Linked DNA regions of Homo sapiens: regions 1, 2 and 4 are each linked to region 3. Evidence: fine-mapped expression QTL. A gene starts in region 3. Each other region holds a variant in brackets. All regions are shown on one strand. Distances are from middle to middle. Region 1 overlaps TAF4 (TATA-box binding protein associated factor 4). Region 2 overlaps CDH4 (cadherin 4). Region 3 holds the start of CDH4 (cadherin 4). Region 4 has its middle 12 kb from the start of MIR1257.

What was found. PIP is the estimated chance that this variant, and not a neighbour inherited with it, causes the effect. A credible set is the group of variants that fine-mapping cannot tell apart.
Region 1: its variant is the best candidate, but not a certain one, in a credible set for the expression of CDH4 in prostate (GTEx, PIP 0.75).
Region 2: its variant is the best candidate, but not a certain one, in a credible set for the expression of CDH4 in nucleus accumbens (GTEx, PIP 0.56).
Region 4: its variant is the best candidate, but not a certain one, in a credible set for the expression of CDH4 in pancreas (GTEx, PIP 0.62).

What each region holds. Positions count from the first base shown.
Region 1 is chr20:62,005,165-62,010,462 of GRCh38, forward strand. It overlaps TAF4 (TATA-box binding protein associated factor 4), which reads right to left. Exons shown (of 15, transcript NM_003185.4): 4 at 4,882-5,001; 5 at 3,888-4,010; 6 at 2,383-2,472; 7 at 1,346-1,594. Among named protein-coding and RNA genes, the nearest start is that of MIR1257, 54 kb to the left of the region's middle. The variant T/A (reference allele first, on the strand shown) is at 2,320.
Region 2 is chr20:61,300,664-61,305,961 of GRCh38, forward strand. The region is part of intron 2 of CDH4 (cadherin 4); the gene reads left to right. Among named protein-coding and RNA genes, the nearest start is that of CDH4, 51 kb to the left of the region's middle. The variant G/A (reference allele first, on the strand shown) is at 3,180.
Region 3 is chr20:61,249,929-61,255,226 of GRCh38, forward strand. CDH4 (cadherin 4) reads left to right here and starts at 2,333. Exons shown (of 16, transcript NM_001794.5): 1 at 2,333-2,642; 2 at 4,898-5,009. The coding sequence starts at 2,586. RefSeq lists an enhancer at 4,437-5,129.
Region 4 is chr20:61,963,333-61,968,630 of GRCh38, forward strand. No RefSeq gene overlaps it. Among named protein-coding and RNA genes, the nearest start is that of MIR1257, 12 kb to the left of the region's middle. RefSeq lists enhancers at 1-1,165, 2,068-2,696, 2,697-3,326 and a silencer at 608-808. The variant T/A (reference allele first, on the strand shown) is at 2,437.

The DNA.
Region 1 (5,298 bases), 760 kb after region 3:
CTGCGGCGCAGGGAACCTGCCATCAAATGCCCGGGCCAGGCCCTGCGGTGCAGGGAGCCTGTCATCGAATCAGGGAGAAGCCTGGGTTCTGCCTCCACAGGCTTCAGGGTGCAGGCAATGGATTGGATGCCCTGGATCCCACTGGCTGTGCTCTGCAGACTCACACGTGGTCAGGAGGAGCCCAGGGAAGCAGAATGCAGAGGTGATCCTGCTGCCAAACACAGCACCTAATTCTAAAAACACCCATGCTGCTTGTGTGTGACTAAGCACCAGAGGTCAAAACTTGGCAAGAAAATGATTGCCCACAGGCTGTGCCTGCTTAAACAGAACCCACCTTTTTGGGTAAAGTAGCTCCACTGACTAGTGAACAGGGAAGTTCTGTCCTTACACTAAAGCAAGAGGCACGGCACATCTCTTTCCCTCTGGAGTCAAAAGGCAGGCAAGGAAGCCCTCTCTTTACACAGGCGCTCAGCCCTTCCCTGGCCTTTATAAGGGACACCCTCCCTCCATGCCATTTCACCCTGTTCTCCTCGCTATTATCAAGACAAAAACAAATGCAACTTGAACAGAGCACAAGAGCCAGCCCCCTAATGGCTACTCCTCACCCAGCTGGTTCTGATGTGTACACCATCACAACACATACCAGCTCATGATGAGGGAGCCCGCACCATTTTGTTGTTTAAGCTGTCTTTAGAGGAAGAAAACACCTCTGAAATTTTTTTAAAACTGCCCCTCTACGTTTGGTGAATCCCTCTGCCCATGAAAGGGAATGTGCTCAAAATGTAATTCTTCTGGCAAAGACATCCTTTCTCTAGCTGCAGAGCAAACGTCATGACTATAAAACCAAGAAAGCCAGATCCAAACTGCACATAAGTGAACCGCTATGAGCAGCCGCGGCTTCGCCTCCCGGGACTCACCTAAATCCACCCTGTGCTGTGAGCTGCTACCCTGCCTCCAGTCTCCTGCCCACCTGTCCCACGCAGGTGCCCGTGTCTTACGCTTGGACCGCTGCTCCTAATCCAAGAGAACATCTATCTACAAGATCCTCTAAAAGCACGCTGCATTCATTTACACCAGTAACATCCCCAGACAAGGCAGGGCGGGGACGTGCCGGTGGTTCAAAGCCAACTCAACTATTTCATTTTACTGAGACAAAATACAACATCCCAGGGCCTCAACCTCTGGTTTCTATTTTAACTATTTAAGGTAATACCCAAGCTTCCTCTAGCAGGAGGCTTCCTGCATGCTTGGAAAAGGTTTCTGAGCCGTGGCCAATTTATCTAAGAAGCGGGCGGGAGCAGAGGCACGGTGGGCTGTGCAGACCAGTCAGGCGCCCCTTCCATACCAGCGGTGTGGGTTGCCCCTGCTTGCCGACGCCGACCTGCGTGGGCTGCGTGAGGCTGAGCACAGGGGGCTGGAGGGCACTGGTCACGGTGGCCGCCGTCTTCCCGGCCGTGCGCTGGACCGAGCTACTCAGCACCACGGCCGTGAGCGCAGTGGTGGCCTGCGAGGTGGGCGGTGGCGGCTGCTGCTGGCTCTGCTGGATGAAGGCCGCGGAGTCGGGGGTCAGCTGTCTCAAGGCGGGTAAGCTCCTCTGGGTGGAAAGACAGACACGAGGGGTCAGGCGGCTGCTCATGCGTCGGTTTTCCTTGCTTAAAAATTCAGAAATATCAACTTTTACAGAAAGCTTTTGAGCTAAGTAAGATGGATCTTGGCCCTCACGGCAGCATGTCTGGATGTCAAGGGCCAGGACCCCATCCTGCCCTCCCACTAAGTGGGATTATTCCTGATAGCAAATGTCCAAAATGTGTTCAAGAAAACAAACAAAAAGAGACATATTTTTAAAAAACTTTTTAAAATATGTTAACATCACTGGAAGAGAAGATTCTGAATGTTCCCAACACATGGAAATAAGTACTCAAGGTGACAGACCCCAAATATCCTGATTCTATCTATGACTGTAACAAAACATCACATACACCTCATAAATGTGTACAAATATACGTATTGATTTTTAAAATGTGCTGATACCAATGATTACCCAACAGAGACAGCCTGACGCTGTTGAAACCCTTGGTCCTATCCAGTTTTGCAAACGCTACCCCATTCCCCGTCCCCTTCACTTTCAGGAAGCACACGCCCTTCTCACCACCTTGCGCACGACAGAACCACAAGGCCACCGTGTCAGGGGAGCTCCTGCTTTACAGAAAAAAAACTAACATTCTGTCCCCAGGCACTGAGTCCCCGGCCCCACCCCCGTAGGCAGCACAAGCGCTGTGCACCCTCCGTGCCTGGAGCATCCTCGCCCTGCACACTTGG[T/A]GCATCTGCGCCCCACCCCTCCCTGGCCCTACTGCTCGCAGGCACCGGGGCCTTTGAAATTACCTTCAGGAAAGGCACAAGGTAAGGTTGAGGTGAAGAATTAAGTTCTCGGTATAACCTGCTTGTGAAATCTTCTGCTTCTATTTTTCCATCCTTAAAAATAAAATCCATGTTGAAATTCTGGTGAATGAGATTCCACACACACTTCTGAATCCCGCATCACTCTGGTCTCGTATTTTACGGCTGATTCCGCCCCGAGTTTCACTGGACAGAGGAGATGGGAAAGTCTGCGTGCTACACCTTTCACAGGTACATGTGTGACAGGCGCTCACCCTGGACACTGCAGTGCAGCCAGCTGCGGACCACGTCTCCTCCTGGGAGGGTCACCTGTCTACTTCTCGTCTTTTTCTAAGTCTCTTACTCAATGCCAGTCTTTACTCAGTGCTTACCAGGCACCTACTCGGTGTCAGGCATTTTGCTAGGAGGCAGATCAGCCTAAAAGTAACTCCATTATCAAAGCCAGCACTGCAAGTGCGGTGCTGCAGGAGGTCACAGCGTGCCAGGGGCCACACAGACAGGATCCACACAGTCAGGGCATCCGCGCCTTCAGGAGCAGATGACAGCTGTGCTCACCCCTGCAAGCGGCCAGGGTGCCCAGAGTCTACAGTCAGACAAAAGGGAGCCCAGAGCAAGAGGGCCAGATCCTGTTTCAGAAACAGAGGCCAGTGTGGAATAAAGGTCGGGAAGACAGGCGACAAGGCGGGAAGGCGGTGCCTGGACTGAACCCTAAGAGACTCCGGAAGACATGGTCAGGCGGACAAGGAGAAGGCACGGTAAGACCAGCCACTCCAGATCCCCAGGCCATCCCACTGACGCCAGCACAGCCCTGAGCCACGAGACAGCCATGAGGCTGAGGAAGGTGGACAGCCGAGAGCTCGGCCATGAGTGGAGATCTGGAGCTTGGGACTGTGGGTTAAGGAGAGGGGAGGCTGCCAGGAATCCTCCCTCCCACCTTCCGGCCAGGGGACAGAGTGCTGTTCTCTGCGACAGAGGTTTCGGGAGGGGTGGGGGTGGGGGGGACGGCTCTGCCACTGGAGCGCGAATGTGCCTCAGCTGGTCTGCTCCATGGGGAGGGGGCTTCTGGTGGCTCAGGGTGCAGAATGCCTGTTCCAGCCGGGACTGCGGACACCTGGGAATTTTATAAGAGGTCACACAGGAGTGGGGAGAGGGCCAGAAGGGAGTTGCTGGAGACCCTGACCAGAGTGCAGCATGGTTGGGGCAGCCAGAGGAGAAGAGAGCCACAGACAAGGGACGCAGGCACCAGAAAACGGCAAAGCCCGGGAGACCTCCAGGCGCCGGCCCCAGAACACCCAGCCCCAGGAAGGAGTCTCCTTAGCTAGGCCACACACGCCTTCGACACGTGTGCACCCCTCCCCTTCGCCTGCAGCCTTCCAGAGGAGCTCTCCCTGCTGGCACAGGCCTCCCGGGCACAGGTCACAGCAGCAACAGGTGTCTGTCCTATGCAACAGGCTTTAGGGGAAAGGGAATGTAAAGTCAAGGTTTCTCACCAGTAAATTCTGCACGAGCTCTTTCACATTAGCTGCTGTCTCTGTAGACTGCTTGCCAGATGAAGCCAGTTTTATTAACGTAGATAGGAAATTTTTACATTTCTTCACGTTTTCCATAGTTTCCTGGATTAAAGTAAAAAGATATAAGTGAAAAATCTTAAAAGGCAGATTTTTGTCACAGCCTTTGGTTACTAAAATATGCATATGTACAAAAGATACATATATTTCTTCTCTAAACTTCTTTCAAGAAAACGCACCACCTCTTGGAACCCTGGGCCATGGGGCAGGCCAGCCACATCAGTCACATGGCCACCGAAGTCAGCATCTCCCTCAGCCCCGCAAGGCCACATCTAGGAATGCAGCTATGCAAATAATTAAAAAAGTGAAAAGAGACTCTGCGAAGATGCCTGCTACAATGTTGCTGACCATAAGGACAACCTATGCCAATCCAAACGGACACAGAAGGAACCAAATAGGATGCGGTCACTAAAGCAACGAAAAGTACGCAGCAAAGAAACACCAAAAAGGCGTCAAGTGGGGCCCACTGTTTAAAGATGTCTATCGATACAGGCCGACACTGTGTGTACAAACGGGTGGCGCTGCTGTTTTACACACTGAACACAACAGTTCACCAGTGACTCTTCTGTTTTAATAAAGATGTGTATCGATACAGGCCGACACTACGAGTGTGTACAAACGGGTGGCGCTGCTGTTTTACATACAACGCGACAGTGCACCAGTGACTTTTTCAAAGGCAGGTGTTTGGGCTTTTGCTGTTTGCAGACTTCTGCGGTCTAAGGCCCTCGGAGCCCACCTCACACAGCACAGCAGCAGAGCCCCACGTGCTCACGTGGGCCCCAGACTGTTCACTGCTTTGTGAAGCAAGCAGTGAGCGGTCTGGGACAGAAGCCGGCCTGAGGTCTCAAGGCTGCATTTTCTGACCTGCGCCACGGGCCTGACCGTCTTTGAAGGCACGGAAAGGAGTGGCTCTTACCGTGGCAGCTGAGGAAGTGGTGGTCGCCCCTGGTACCGTGCGCTGAGGAGTCCCCGTCTGAACAGCCGTCGCCGTCCCAAGTGAAGCCGTCTGGGCAGCGCCACCCAGAACGAGCTGAGGCTACAAGAATCCAAAAACACAAGGTAAGGGCATCTCACGCCACCAGCTGACGAGGGGGAGACCAGCCTCACGCCCAGCAAAAGAAAACAAGCCTCCCTGCGGTGGCCAGGACGCCCAGGAAGCCAAGGACCCCGGCCACCTGCCAGCCCGCTGGACACGGGAGTGCTGCTGGGAGGCCTGCCCTGTGCCCTGACGATCGCAGTCCTGAGCGGGTGAGGAAGGCATGATTTGCACCTGCATCAAAAACGGACGTTCACAAAGCCAGGCACTGCAGAGACCCCAGTCCTCAGAAGTCCA
Region 2 (5,298 bases), 51 kb after region 3:
AGGACCCCTGGCCCCCACACCCAGCCTTCCTGCTGCCCTCTGGGTGGGATGTCCCCTTTCTCCAGGACACTCATGGGTCCCCTGTCAGGGGCGAGGCAGTCTCTTCTACTCCCAGGACAACTGTCTGTTTAGGTGGAAAAACATTGGCTTCCTGGCAGAGCCACCAGGAGGTAGGGACCCTGGGAAACAAACCCACCTCCTCCTCCTCACCCTTCCTTTTGGAGCAGTTCAAGCTGTACAAAGCCCGGAGCACCAGCCATGGGCGGCTGCTCCCTCCCCCGGCCCCTGCAGCTGGCAGCAGGGCCCTCCCACCTCCTCACATGAGCTGCTGGGCAGCCGTGGACTCACCCCACGGTTAATCCCATTAACTTCAAAGCTCACGACTCTTACCTCGCAGTGTGCCCGGGGCTGCGCCCAACTCCCCATTTGCAGTGTCTCTGTGAAGGTGCCAAAGCCCATGGCCCTCAGCCCGCTTCACAGATGGAAGGAGCGAGGCTCGGTTTAGCAAGGTGGTTGCCGTGGTCACTAGAAAGTGAAGGAGGAGAGCTGAGCCTGGCCTGTCTCCACAATGGATGCGGTAAATGCCTGAGGGCTGCTGTGTCAGGCAGGAACCAAGGGGATACAGTGCTGGGGCCTTTACATTTTGTCAGTGGTGCCAGCGGTGGTGCCCTGCCCATATGTTGGCCATTTGGGAAAACAGCAGCCATGTTTGAAAACACATTGCCCCTTTATTTAAATGGGCAGCTGCTGGTACTCACTGGCCTGGGCGTGTGCATTTTGCTGACATTTGGGGCAGACCCTTCTGTTGAATTCTCGATGCTTCGCGAGGCCTCTTGCCTTGGTCATATGACCTCCAGAGAGTTTTTGCTGCTTTTTAAGTCGTTTCAAGCGATTATTCTCCGGCCATAAAACTCAGCTTTAAAAATAGGTTTCATAAAGGCCCCGACTTTTCTTCTAATTAGTGTAAAGATTTATTGAATATACATCATATGCACAGATCATAATATTATTAAAATTACTATTAAGACTTTACACATCAAAATATTTCAGGCAGTGGGGAGACAGGAAGCCTGATGGTCCCTGAGAATCGAATCTGCATTGGCAAGATAAAGGACAATTGAGGGCGATTACAAAAGCCATGATTTAGAGTACAACATAAAACTCTGCTGAGAACTAATTCGTATTGCCAGCTGCTGCTAAGCTTCTTAATCTTTATCTAGTTCAATTAAAATCTGAATGTTTGGGATTTCATTAACAACCGGGGGTTTGGAAATTACATGCGCTTTTACGCCATACTTCCGTTGCTGACTGACAATATTGGAAGTTGCCCAAAACGTCTCCAGGTAGACTTATGTATAATTAAAACTTAAGTATTTAAAGGCTAATGCAAAGGTAAAAGCAGATTGTTTTAATTTGCAAGTCAGATCCGACTGACAAAGTAAGGAGACTCCACTACAAACGGTGCCCCTTTTGTGGGGAGAGAGAGCATTTAGTAGGCCGAGGTCTGGGCGGTGACCTGCAGCTCATGGTCGAGCCCTCACCACAGGGCCGGTTTCCGTGTGAGGGCCAGGGAGCTGCTTTGGGCATCTTCTTAGCCACTGGGGACCTTGTCACGTTCCTGTGTGTGCAGTCCGTATCCTCACTGTGGTGCAGATGTGTTTGCTGTCTGCCAATTCATTATGCGTTTTCAAGACTTTGCAAGCAGGTCTTTCTAAAATTAAACCAGCCAAAGTGATGAACAAGCTTAACGCCTAACTTCAGATGAACGGTGAAAAGCAAAAGCATCCAGGATGTTTCCTGTATGTGTTTCCTTGGCCTGGGTTGGGGGGGGTCTGTTGTCACAAACGTCATTCTTCACAGGAGAATGGGAGGGTCTGACTGAGGTTGGGGGTGGGGGCAGGGAATCGGCATTGTTGTCCCCTCCATCCCTCAAGTCATCCTGAGACTGGTTGGTGCCTCCCATGTCCTGCATGGCCCGGAGGGATGGCTGCAGCATTTGGGTCTGTGTGAGACACACCTGTTTCGGTTCCCTGAGCATGGGAGGTAGAACAGGGACCCCCAAAGATGCCCCAGTCCTAATCTCTCCACCTCTGAATGTCTCACCTTGCCCCGCAGAAGGGACTCTGCAGATGTGATGAAAGTGAAGGATGCCGAGATGGGAGGTTATCCTGGTTGGTGCCATAGAACCCCAAGGTCCCTTCCAAAAGGGAGGCCGGAGGGTCAAGGTTGGGAGGAGAAAATGTGAGGAGGGAAGCAGAGGTTGGAGTGATGTGAAAGAGGCCATGAGCCCATAACACAGGTGCCTCCAGAGGCTAGACAAGGAAGGATTCTCTCCTGGGGCCTCCCCAGCATGGCTGACACTTGGCTCTTGGCCCAGGGAAACCCATATCAGACTTCTAGCCTCCAGACCTGCAAGATATAAGTGTTCACATTAAGCCATGGGGTTTGTGGTGACGTTACGGCCACAGTAGGAAGCAGATACACCCTGAGACCCAAAGCATGTGGCTCCCCTTCCTATGCCTGTTCTCTCAGCTGTGAAACAAGAGTGGAGAGTGGTACCCAGGCGTTCTTGTGAGGATGGGCGAGATGGTGAATGTGTCACCAGCCTGGGTCAAGGAGGGCGATATTAGCCATGAGCTGCTGCTGGGGTGGCCTTCCTGCTGCTGGTCCAGGTGCCTGGCCTGGTGCTGGTCAAGGCCACGAGTCCTCTGCAAGAGCCAGGGCAGGGGTGGGGGACAGCAAGGGGCTCGAGGCACAGCCGTATCCACGCCCTGCCCCGTCTGGCCCTGCTCTTGCCATTTTTTTCCAGCTCCTCTGGCTGCCCCTCTTCCCCTTCTCTGCCTCATCCTCACCCTCCTGCTTCTCCTGGGTTCCCAGCAAGGCTGCAGCAGCAGGACAGGGATCCAGGTGGGCCCCCAACTGGTCATCTTGTGATTTGGGGGGTGTCTGCTCTCTCCGGTGCCAGCTCTCCTGAAGTCCTCTTCTCTCTGCCTTCTCACCTCCAGCGCCATTGCTTAATTTCCCTGTAGCTCTTTTCAGGGGAGCAGGGAGGAGGAGGTAGGAGCTGGGCTGAGATATGTGGAGCATCACTGTGCATCTGTGCCCACCCCCAGGCCCGGGACACGGAGGCACCAGTGGGAGGAGCCCACGGAAGTCCAGTGGGGCAAGCTGGAAAGCGA[G/A]CCTTCAGCAGCAGCCTGGATCCCAGGAGGTCCGATGGGCACGGTGCCATCCTGTTTTGTTTACTTAGGCAACACGTGCACCTCCTCTTAAATAATAGAGGCTACTTCGGAACGGAGTTGACCTGGGGCTGTTCTTCTGAAGGTTAACACGGCCGTAGGGATAGGCTCCTGCCAGTGGCTTCATTTCACACGTTTTTCTGGGTGGTGATGTCCCCAGTTCTATGGGACCCTCAAGGAACCCGTGTCCTGGGGCCTGGGAAGGAAAAGGCCAGGCATTCCTTTCCTCAGCTGCAGATCAGGAAACTGTCTTCACAGCCCCAGGCTTCTATGAAGACGAATCCTGGTTTTAGGTCTTTCTCTGCCCATCCTCCGAACGCAGTTCTCAGCAGTCAGCATTTTGGATTGAAGATAGTGGACGGCACCCCCCCAACCCCCCGTTCTTTGGTGTGGTCGTTATAGGAGTGACTTCCTAGGTAATCACTGAAGTGGCCAGTTTTTGTTATTTTACTTCATTCTGATACTGGTTTTCTGCGTCCTAGTTTTATTATTTCATATTACATTGTATTGCTTCATAATGGTCTGCGTGGTTGGCTTCTCTAAACGATGAGCCCCTGGAGGACAGGACGCCTTTGGTCGTGTTGTGTGTGTGTGAATGTGTGTGTATGTGCTGTGTTTGTTGTGTTGTATATGGTGCATATGCTGTGTGTTTTGTATGTTTTGAACTCTGAATTGTACTAGAGGGCCTGGCTGTGCCATAACAATATTAAGAGGCCTAGAGAAAAGGACAGCAGAAGGGGTGCTATTGGCAGGAGGTTTATAAAGTCCAGGAGCAACTAGAGACGATGTATTTCTAGACTATGTATGTACTAGAGCCTCTGTGTGTGCAGTGTGCTGTGTGTTTTGCATGCAGTGTGCATGTTGTGTGTGTGGGGTTGTGTGTGTGTGTGCAATGCATGTATTGTGTGTGGGGATGTGTGTACAGTGTGTCCTTTGTGTTGCGCATGCAGCACGTGTATTGTGTGTGTGTGTGTTCGGTGCGTGTGTTGTGTGTGGGATGTTTGTGCAGTATGTTGCGTGTGTTGTACATGCAGTGTATGTGTTGTATGTGTGTGTGTGCTTTGTGCATGTGCTGTGCGTGGGTGTGTGTACAGTGTGTTGCCTGTGTTGGGCATGCAGCATGTGTGTTGTATGTGTGTGTGTTCTGTGCGTGTGTTGTGTATGTGCAGTGTGTTGTGTGTGTTGTGTATGCACTGTGTGTGTGGTGTGTGCTCTGGGCCTGTATTGTGTGTGGGGAGTATTTTTCAGCGTCATCTCTGATGTTGAGCCTGACTGTCCGTAAGTGTGTGTTTCGGTGGATCTATAAACCTGCCTTTTTGTTTTGTGATTTTTGTTTTTCTTTGTCTGGGGGCAGAGGGGGAAGAAACCTTCCACCCAGCGTGGCTTTCGAGATGCAGGGCCAGTGCACCTGCCGTATCTTATGCAGCGACCTTACAGTCTTCAGGCATCTAGTGATCAGTGTGCTGTGAACCCCCTGGAAATCCTGCTGAATGCGGATTCCCACTCCCGGGGGAGGTGGGGCCTGAGAGTCTGCATTTCCAACACTTTTTCTCTATGGATGCTGCTGGTGTGGGGACCACACTTTTGCAGCAAGACTTTGAACAGCCTGAGGTCCTCACGACATTCCAAGTCCCTGGACCAATTCCTAAGTTATTAAAAATAAAACTCCCTTGATTCTTTTCAATTCTCTTGACCTCGGTTCACGAACCTCTCTCTTCCCCTTGGTCTCAGAGCTTCCCAGGGCTTTGGTGGCCATGAGTTTGTGCATTTCCAGATGTCATCCAGCTCACCGCTCACGTGCACCTAAGTGGCTGGGTTAACATCAAGATCGAAGGGAGCCACCTTGATCTGGAGCTTGTCATTTTCATGAAAGATGCTGCCACATCACAAATGGATTTGGCAAATGGCTCGCCAGGAGATCCGTGGGAGTTCAGAGATAACTGAAAATATGATCTATATCTGTATATTTGGCTTCTAGAGTGAAGATCGGCCCACGGATTGATCTGATAGGGGTGATAAATATATAGTCCCTAGTTGCTCTTGGACTTTGTAAGCCTTCTGC
Region 3 (5,298 bases):
ACAAGCTCCTGGGGGATCTTGATGCTGCTGGTCTGGGGACCACACTCAGAGTGACAGGCTGAAGACCATTCTTTGGAGGCACTGCTTTGTATTTTAGGTCATATTTTTCTTTTCTGTCTCAGCAATCTTTGCTGCTGCATTCAGAGTAAGTCTGATAAACCAATGCTCTCTACTGGACTCCTGTCAGTTACTGCAGTGTTTCTGAAACTATGTATTTCGGAAAATGCGAGTTCCCGTAAGACATTACAGCTGTGTAAGAAGGTTTCTTTGAACAAAGTTGGGGCCATGCTGCGTGTGCCAGGGTCCCAGCTCTGGGTGAGAATGCTGGCACTGCAGCTTTCCCCGTGCCTGCCCTCTGCACCCTCCTCTGCCTGACTGTATAGTGGAGTTAGAAGGACTCCAAGAGCAACTTTACATAAAGCTCCTACACATGTCCCTGGCACATAGCTAGCACCTTGTAAGGACAGGCTATTGTCAAACTCTACCCTTTCTGGAAATCACGCTGCAGTAGACTCAAGATTCATTCAGTAGTAGAGGGAGATGTGCTTAACACAGTGTTTGGAGTTCAGGACCCACCTGCTCCTGGACCCCAGTCTCCCTGCCACACACTCATACCTTTTCTTTTTCAAATTGGCGCGCTCCTCAGCGCTTCAACAGTTTCGCAGAGCACGTTGGAGCAAATGCGGGGGTCTGTGATGCCTCTCCAAAGAAATAACTCGCATAATGCTCAGGCCTCCTGCAGACAAAGGTGTATCCCCAGCGACAGATATTTTAAGAAAATAGACCAGGGACACAAGACAAGAGAGCTGTCTTGGTGTCTAAAGCAGTCTTGGACAGCTTCTGATGTCGCTCGAGCAGTGGTGAAGCACCTTGAATAAGGAGGAAAGCAGAGGGGGCGTCTTCCCAAAGGACGGGCACATGGCCGAGGAATGGAATTCTCTGTCCATGAGGATTTTGGATGGATCTGTTCATGAAACCTCACTGGCTACGCAGGACCTTCGAGTGAGTCTAAACCTCCAGCCATGTCAACTGGTAACCTCTCCTTCTTCGGCTAGGTGGGGAGTGGGACAAGGCCATAACTGATAGGAGTCCAGGCTGGGGCAGATTTTGTGTCTCCTGACTAGTTCCATAGTTAAGTTGCAAAACCGAATCTCGCCTTGTGCTCTCGGATGTAGTGCTTACTCTGGTCCTCTGGGGTTATCTAAAATCTGGTTTCCTTAAGCGTAAGGCAGAGCTCTAACCGGGAGACCACCCTGCCCCCAAGGGTGGGGGTTCTGGGAGGGAGAGAGGGAAGCGGCTGCTCTGTAGCTTTCTCTACTGGCTTGCCCAAGTGGACTCTGATCTTGGAGCTCAACAGTGTCACTCAATCTTCCACCCTCTCCTTTGCAACCTATTTCTTAAACCAGAACTAATGTATTCTGGACACAGAGTCCCTGAAACCCCAGACAAAGAAAATTCGATGTATCTGAACAAACAAAACCGCGTTTCTTTAAATCTCCAAGCCAAAAGGAAAAGTGCAGAAACATTTACTCACTGTCCGACCTGTACATATATTTTACCTGATAACCCTTAAAGAAGTGCCCCCCAGTTCAGCCATCACCCATGCAGGGCAAAGGGAGCTGGAGCTGGCCCAGCCTGTCGGCGCAGACACTCCTGACAGCTCCTGTCTGGGCACTTCTTTCTTTCTTGGAGCTTCTAATTTCTTTCTTGGCTTCTGAGGCCTAACAGGGTGTTTTGATGCACACACAGGAATTACTACCGTCCCCAATCCTAGGGTACATCCCTAGCCCAGGCCAGGGCTTTGAGTTTTCCTAGGAGCGGGAGGGTCTGCAAAGCCCCACAGGCTGAAATCTCAGCGTGGCCCTCTGCTCATCTGCTCCAGGTGGAAACTCTCACCCCTGAGCTGCCCGACCTGGGTTCAAGCCCGGGTCAGGGGAGTTAGCAAGGAGACACCTGAAAAATAAAAGGACAGAATGGAAGTGCACACTCCCACCGCGGGCCCGGGCGGGAAGTCGGACTAAGACCGCGGCGGGACCGCCCCATCCAGAAAGGGTGCCCCGGGTGTGGGGGCGGAAACCCCAGCGCTGTCTTCAGTCTCCACACCCGCGCCTTTTTCCCCTGGAAAACGAGCGTCCTTGGCCTCTTCGGCCGCAACCGGGCGGCTCCAGACGTCCAGGAGGGCAGAGGCTGGGCTGGTGCGGCGCGGGGGGCGCGGGCGCGGGCTCTGCGCCTTTAAGGCCCGCGTCGGCAGAGCGAGCGCAGGGGCCGGGCGGCGGGGCGGGGCCTCGGCGGGGCGGCCGCGGCTTCACCTGCAGCTCCGAGCGCGCGGAACAGAGGCGCGGGCGGCTGCGAGGCCGGCGGACGCACCGGCCCGAGGGAACGCGCCGCCGGCCGGACTTGGCCTGGCTCCCGGAGCCGGGGCGGCGAGCGCGGCGGGCGCAGCGGGGCTGGAGGCTCCGGGCAGGCGCGGGGGAGCGGCGGCGGCGGCGGCGATCGGAGCGGCGGCGGTGGTCTCGGCGGCGGCGGCGGCGGCGGCGGCAGGGAGCGGGCTCCCGGTGCCGGGCACCGGGCGGGCGGCGGGGAAGATGACCGCGGGCGCCGGCGTGCTCCTTCTGCTGCTCTCGCTCTCCGGCGCGCTCCGGGTAAGTTGCCGCCTCCCGCCCCCGCCGTTCGGAAGCCCCGGGCAGCGGGAGGTCGTCCCCGGATCCCGCGGGGCGCTCACACACCCGGCGGGGCTCTCCCGGGCTCCCCCGCCGCGCTCCCCGCTGCATCCAGCCCGGCGCCCGCGCTCGGCGAAGCTGCCTGCGGTCGGCAGGAGCGGGAAGCCGCCTGGGCAGCGGGGAGCGGCGGAGCAGGGTGGGAGTGGGGCTCGGTGGAGGACCCGGGGAGCTCCGCCTGCACCGGACCCGCCGAGCCTCCCTCGAACGCCCAAAGCCCGTAGCCGCTACCCGGAGCTCGGCTTGCCTGCATGGGGCAGGCTTCCACTGGCGGAGCCGGCGCGCCCTCCATCGCCCGGGAGCCGCGCGCCGCGGGAGTTGCCGAGCCCAGCCCCGGCCGTGGCTGAAGGCGTGGGGCGCCCGGCGGCTGCGGGCCAGGGATCCGCGAGTGCGGGGCGCCTGCCCGACCTCTCCTGCCCAAGGCCTGGGGGTCCGTCTAGCGGCGCCGCTCAGTTCTGTGGGTGCCGGCAGGACCCGCGCTGCGGGTGGGCGGCGGGGTAGGACTGCGGGGCACTCTCACCCCCGAGCCCTCGGCGGGGCTGGAGCCTGCGTGTCCGGCGGGGCCCCGGGGGCTGGGAGCTGGGCCGGGCTTGGGCCGGGAAGCCGGACGCCGGGCGGGCGCGGCGCGGGAGGGCGCCCCGGGAGGGCGAGCGGGTCTCCCGCTGCCTCTGCAGAGCCCCGCGGGCCGGATTGCCAGCTTTGCTCTGCGCCTGGCGAGGTGCGCGGCCCGCGGGGGCAGAGAGCGCGGCGGCTCCGGGGGCGCCCCTGGGCGGAGGCGGAGGGGCGGCGGGAGTTGCAGGAACCCCCTCTCGTGGCCGATCGGCCTCGCTGCCTTCTCCCGGGCAGCGCTGTTGTAACCTCGGAAATAAACAAGTGCCAGCGGCGGGAGGCCCGCTCCGAGGCCGCGGGGCGCTGGGGGACGCGCTGGGCACACGCTTCGGGCGGGCGGAAACTTTCCTGGGCGAGTTGAGCCTCCCACCGGGCTGCGGGTGCGATTTGGAGCTTCGTGGCCGATGAAGAAAGCCGCGGTTTAGAGCTTTTCGTAAGGAATGACCCTGCGTCCCGCTCTCCTCCCTCGGTGCTGGGGGTAGAGGGGCGCCCTCCGCGGTGCCGGCGTCGGGAAGCCTGGAGCTCCGGGCTGGGGGCGGCCTCCGGAGTCGAAGCATGGGCGGGCGACGGCAGCGCGCGGAGCTGGAGGAGGCGGCGGGCGGGAGGCGCCACTGCCCGGTGCGGGCTGCACCCGAGGCTTCCTGCGCTCGCCGGGGAGCCAAGCACCGCTGTGCTCCTGCTCCTTCAGCGGGGCTGGCTTCCCGCTTGCACACACTGCCTCTCCCTCCACCACCTCCTCCTGCCTGTCACGCCCCCTCCCAGAAGCTTGGTCGGAGGGCCCTGTCGTCCACCCCATCCTTCCCTGGCCCTGTGCCATGGGCTCTAGACTTCCCCACTGAGCAGGAAAGGCGAGCGAGCTCCGGAGGACAGGAGGAGACCCCCTTTCCGGTCAGTTAGGGGAGCCGTCTCCCTGCCTGGGCTGGAGATGGGGGCTCCGAGGGTGAAAATGCGGGCTGAAGACTAGAAGGTGGAAGCGCCCCCACTGCCTCCTCACCCCAGCCACCGGCAGCCTCCCGCAGAGCTGCCTTCTTCGACCGGCTCCGGACCTAGTCCTAGAGAATCTTCTTCCTTTCTCTCCTCTTTCTCCTCCCTCCCGGTGACCTGGAGAGGAGACAAGAAGCTGCCTCCTCCGCCTTACCAAGAGCGCAGAGCGGTGGGCCTAAAGCGCGAATGGTCTGAGCAGAGCCGCCCACACTTTGGCCTCCCTGCCCTTAGTGGCTTCGGGAGCAGCGGCTGAAGTCTTCTGTCTCTGCCTTTTGGTCATTTCTCAGGCGTCTCCTCTGCCAATAAGGCCCTGGCCGGCCTGGCTTCCCCAACAGTCCGTCCTTCACTCCCTGCCTGCTGTGTGTGGGGCTGGGGAAGGATGCTCCTGGTCTGTAGCCTGGAGAGTGCTCCCTAAAGTCCCCAGAGAGCAGAGGAGCAGACGGGGTATCGCGTCTGGGTGGAGACGGTGGCCTGCCAGCCTTTCTCTCTTAGCCAGAGACCTTTTACACAGCAGGCCCTGGATGAATGTTGGTTGGATTAAATTTCTGTGAACTTATTGTTTTACACTCTCCCCTTTGTGTTCTCAGGCCCATAATGAGGATCTTACAACTAGAGAGACCTGCAAGGCTGGGTTCTCTGAAGATGATTACACGGCATTAATCTCCCAAAATATTCTAGAAGGGGAAAAGCTACTTCAAGGTAAGGCGGGGTGTGGAGGGGTGGGAGTGAATTGCTGCCATGCTTTTCCTTGGGGAAACATGTAGATGGGAGAGGCAAGGCTTGCCTCATCTTTGTGCTCTCTGTGAAATGATGGTGGTGAAGTCCACGAGGTGCAAATTGGTTGACCTGAAAGGCGTTTTGCATAACAGGTGAATGATTCAGAACCCCGGTCATTTTTGAGTGAAGTGAATCATTTCCTGGGCAGCAAACTGTAATTCGGATGTAACATCACCCAAATAGTGTGCAGAGAGAGACCTTCTTACCAAGT
Region 4 (5,298 bases), 710 kb after region 3:
AATCCCGAAGGGAGGGGAGCAACTGGGGGGCTGGGCTACAGGAGGCTTTGGCTGAGCCCCTCCGTGCCCAGGGTACAACAAATATCAGGACAGTACACAGGGACTTGCCTTAGGAAAGCCCACCCAGCCAAGCACAGGACTTGCATGAAGATCAGAAAGTTTACTGAGGCACAGGAAGACTTCCTCTGGAGATGGAAAGGAGGCAAGGGCCCCGGACCACACTCTTCTTAGCATTGGCCTGGAAGCCTCAGCCTGTGCAGAAAGCAAGAAAAAATAAAAGATGTAAAGGTTGGAAGGGAAAAAAATAAAATGTGGTTGTTCACGGATGACACAGCTGCATACAGAGGAACGCCTCAAGAATAGATAAACAATCTGTTAGAATTAATCAGTGGAGTTATAAGGTCACTGGGGACAAGGTCAATATACCCAAAAAACAAATCCATCAAGTGTTTGTAGACTAGCACAAACAAACAGAACACGAACTTTAAAATTATAGCATTTACAACAGTATCTGTATTAGTCCATTTTCATACTGCTGTGAAGAAATAGCCAAGATGGGTAATTTATGAAGAAAAAGAGGTTTAATGGACTCACAGTTCCACGTGGCTGAAGAGGTCTCACAATCATGGCGGAAGGTGGAGAAGCAAAGTCACGTCTTACATGGCGGCAGGCAAGAGAGCGTGTGCAGGGAGACTGCCCTTTATAAAACCATCAGATCTCATGAGACTTATTCACTATCACGAGAACAGCACGGGAAAAACCCACCCCCATGATTCAGGTACCTCCCACCAGGCCCCTCCCACAACACGTGCTGATTATGGGAGCTACAATTCAAGATGGGATTTGGGTGGGGACACAGCCAAACCATATCAGCATCCAAATACTTAGAAATAAATCTAATTGGAGACATGAAAGACCTCCACCTGCAAACTACACAGTGAAATTAAACACATAAATAAATGGCTATGCCATATTCCTGGATTAGAAAATTCAATAATGTAAAATGTCAGTTCTCCCCAAATCAATTTGTAGATTCAATGCAATCCCAGTAAAATTCCTAGTTGAGTTTGTTTGGGGTGGTGTTTGTTTGTTTGGAGACAGGGTCTTGCTCTCAAGACCCTAGGTCCTGGACAGGGTCCACCCCTAGGCTAGAGTACAATGGCATGATCACAGCTCACTGCAACCTTGAACTCCTGGGCTCAGGTGATCCTCCCACCTCAGCCTCCTGAGTAGTTGGGACTACAGGCATGCATGAAAATTTCTGTATTTTTTATATAGACAGGATCTTGCCTTGTTGCCCAGACTGGTCTCAAACTGCCAGGCTCAAGCAATCCTCCCACCTCAGCCAGCCAAAGTGCTGGGATTACAGGCGTGAGCCACCGCAATAGGCCAATTTTTTTTTTATTGTTTTGTTTTGTTTTGTTTTTTTAAACTGAGCTGAGAAACTTCAAGTCACTGCTGGAGGAGTCAAGACGGCAAGCCAAAGCCCTGTGTGGCTGGGGTGGGGTCTGGCCCCGCTTCACCCTCACGGAGCCTCCTTGGCTTTAGGAAGAGCAGAGGTCCTTTCTCAGGCACTGGTGGCTGTGCTTCAAGCTGCTGTGGTGGAGGCTGAGCCAGTTTCCCACCCACCTGCCTACCAGGAAGCCCCGAGTCTGTCCCTGCAGTCCCTCCTCCTGGGAGCTGCTGCCGAATCTAGGGTGTCCCCGCCTGTTTTGCTTTCTGGGAAGAGTCTCCTCTCTGAGAAGCAAGATCCCCTGGAGATGCGGTCGGTGCTGGCTCCGCCTGCCCTGCCCTGCCTGCACACCGTTCCGGGTGTCACCACCCCAGGCGACTGCAGGACCCTAGATGCCCTGAGGTCCGGGAAGGCGGGGGGTCCCCGAGTCTTTTACTCCCTGGAGATAAGCCTTCGCGGGGTTCGCAGGACTGCGTCCTCCTGGGCCCCTTTTTCCTTTTTTCTTCTACCTGGGGGTTGTGGTGCCAAATGCCTCTTGGGTTCCAACGTCTGGTGCCCTCTCAGGAGTTCCACCGGCAACGACCCGACGTGCAGGGACTGTGGCAGGTTTGTGACCCCTCCCCTCCCCGCAGAGCCTGGCACATCGGCAGCCCTCCCGCGAGTCAGCCTGGGTGACTGCGACTGCCCTGGGCTCTAAACCCCGGGGTACGGGCCAGGTGTCTGCTTGGGGAGGTGTAGACGGACACAGGCAGGGTGGGAGGAGGCGAAGGTGTCCTCCACGAAGGACGCGGGGCGCACCGGGACTCCAGTCCCCGGCACCCTCCACCCGGCACCCGCGTCCCCACACGGGCCGCGTCCCGCCTCCCCAGCCTCCCTGGCCCCCCCGGCCGCCCCCACTCACATCCCGTTGCCCCCCACCTGGCCCCCACCATGCACCCAGCATCCCAGGCCCAGGTGCCCCGCCCCGGGCCTTACCCACGGGC[T/A]CGAGCCTGATCTCCTCCCCGGGCCCCCCGCCCCTGGCTCCTCCTCGGCTCCCACAAGGCACAGCCTGTGTCCGCCCCAGACCCGCCGCGAACTCGCGCTGCCACCTGCCGCCTCGGCCCTGCCCCCGGCCCCGCCCCCAGCCCTCTAGCCCCGACCCCGACCCTCCGGCCCCGCCCCTCCCCTGGCCTGCCACGTGTCCCCTACCCCGCAGGGCAGCTGCGTGTTTTGTGTTCCTGTCTCTGCGGCCAGGTGGGGGCGAGTGCGCTGAGGTCAACCCTCGGCCACCCGGGCGCTGGGTGGTGCTGCCACTGTCCCCATTTCAGAGATGAGGAGACTGAGGCTCACAGGGGAAAGGGCCATCTGCATCCGGAGGAGGGCCTAAGCCAGACTCTCCCTGGAGGAACAGGGAGGCCTCGACTAGCCCCTCCCCAAACGCAGCAAGTGGGTGCTCTGAGGAGGGGGTGTGGGGACCCTTCCCTCTGGGGCCCTCAGAAGGGGTGGGCCTCAGCCCCACCATGTGGCCCCAATCCAGCCCTCAGGACCCGCCAGGAGTCTCAGCACCTCCCCACACACCGAGTGTCCAAAAGCCTCTGACATCCCCTCTAGGGGGAGCGCTCCCCAAAGTCTCTCTGGCAAGGGTTCTCGGCACCACCAGGGTTGGGGCCCACGCTTCTTTTCCCCTCAATCTACCCTGGGAGGGGAAGGGCGGGGAGGGGCCCTGGCAGGGCAGCAGCGAGGACTGGGCAGTTGGCTTTCCAGGGCCTGGCTTGCAATGTCGGGCTCCCCCTCCATCCTCAGCTCCTGGGAGCTCGTTCTCGTGGCTGGCTGGGTCCACCGCAGCCTGGAATTGGTGTGTGGCATTCTTATAGCCACCTGCCCCCAACCATGAAAACAGACCCAGTGCCAGTCTTCAGGCACGGCTGGATCCAGGCGCCAGTCCTCAGGCACGGCTGGATCCAGGCGCTCCGGGATGCCATCAAGGCTGGCTCTTCATTCGGCCTCTGTGTTGGTCTCAGCCACACTCTGCCCCGCAGTGGCCACGGTGGCAGTCCTTGGACAACTGAGCTGACGTCCTGCCAGCCCCCAAACATGAAGTGTCCTTCTGGGAGTTCCTGTAACATGTCTGGGTGAGACAGGACTGGCCAGGCTGAGGTCACGGCCATCCCTCAGCTTGTGTCAGTGACCAAGACAAGCCAGGCCACATGACCCACCCCCCTGGGTCCACCCCGAGCGGGTAGGATGGGTGGGGCCTGCTGGCCCCATGTGCCCGTGCAAGGCGCTGTGCCGGGAGACACGGGGCCCCCTCAGTCATCACGTGGCATTTCTCATAAGCTTCTGAGGCGGCCCAGGGACCACCAGGGCTCCAGTGTGGCCAAGAAGTGAAGTCTGAAGTGACCCAGAGGGCTGCTGGTGAGGGGATGAGTGCTCAGGACGGAGGCGGAGGGCTTCCTGGAGCTGGTGGCATTTGAGAGGACATAGGGGAAGAGCAGCACAGAGTGGAAGGCCCTGCTAGAGAACTGGGCCACATTCAGGGGACTCTGGCAGCCCAGCAAGCTCCAGCTCCTTGGACGCTTGTTGGCGAAACAATATTGTACGTCCCTCCCTCCCCACCACCCCTGCAGCCTAGAGATGGAAAGGTCCCTCCACCAGGACCAGACCTCCTCCCTCCTCCCACCTCGGACCTCCCACCCCACCTCCAGCATCAGCAGACAGTGCTGGACCTGGACCAGGGTCAGGAGCAGTGCCCCCCACCCCGCCCCTCAGCACCATCAAACCTGCCACCTCCCTGCACCCCTTCCCACCTCCCCTCCCTTCCCCCTTCCCCTCCCTTCCTTCCTCCCCTTTTTTTACCCCCTCCTCCCTTTCCCCACCTCCCCTCCGTTCCCCCCTCCCTTTCCCCCTCTCCTCCTTTCCCCCGTCCTCCCTTCCCCCCTCCCCTCCCTTTTCCCCCTCCCCTTGCTGCCTTTTCCCCTCCTCCCTGCACCCCCTGCTCCCCTCCCCCTTCACCCATCCCTCCTCCCTGTAACCCCCTCCCCACTCCCTGAACCCTCCTTCCCCTTCCCTGCACCTTCCTTCCCCCTCCCCAGTGCCCCACCCTCACCTCTTCCCCACCCGCACCTCTGCTTCTTCCATTTGGCACCTCCCATGTTCCTGTCTCCACACACGAACGCAGCTTTTTTATTTTTCATTCATTTATTTTTGCAGCGTTATTGAGATAGACCTGATTGACGTATGGTAACCTGCATATATTTATAGTGTGCAATGCGGAAAGTTTCGACACTTTGCACACCTGTGAAACCATCACAGTCAAGATAATTCTCCATCACCCAAGTTTCTTCACGCCCTTGGCAGGCCTCTCCCACCCCATCGACAAAGGTGCCCAAGGGCCTTTCCTCACTCCCATCACTGCGCTGCCCAGCATCTCCCACAAGTGGAAGCAGCGGGCTCCTGCTGTCGCAAGCGTTCCACTGCGGGGTAAAATAAAGCTGCTGTGAACCTTGTACAAGGCTTTGCTGGACACCTGTGTTCATTTCTCCAGAAGCAGCGGTGAGAGACGCATGTTTAACCCCTTAAGAAACTGCCAGAAGGGTGTGAACCACAGTCCACACCCCAGCACCTCCAGGAGTTCCGTGCCCTCCCGACACTCGTCCTGGTCCCATCCTCACGAGTGTGTTCCTGGTATTTTGTTGCGTTTTTAATTTCTAAATAAGCTCAGGAAACATGATTCTCAACATCCTCCTCAGATGCACCCAGAGAGAAGCCGCCTCTCTTCTGCTCACACCTGAGAGCTCTCCTGTCCACCTGCGCCCTTCCCCAGCCCCAGCCTTTTCCACCTCAAGCCTCTACCCAGCCCCTTCGCC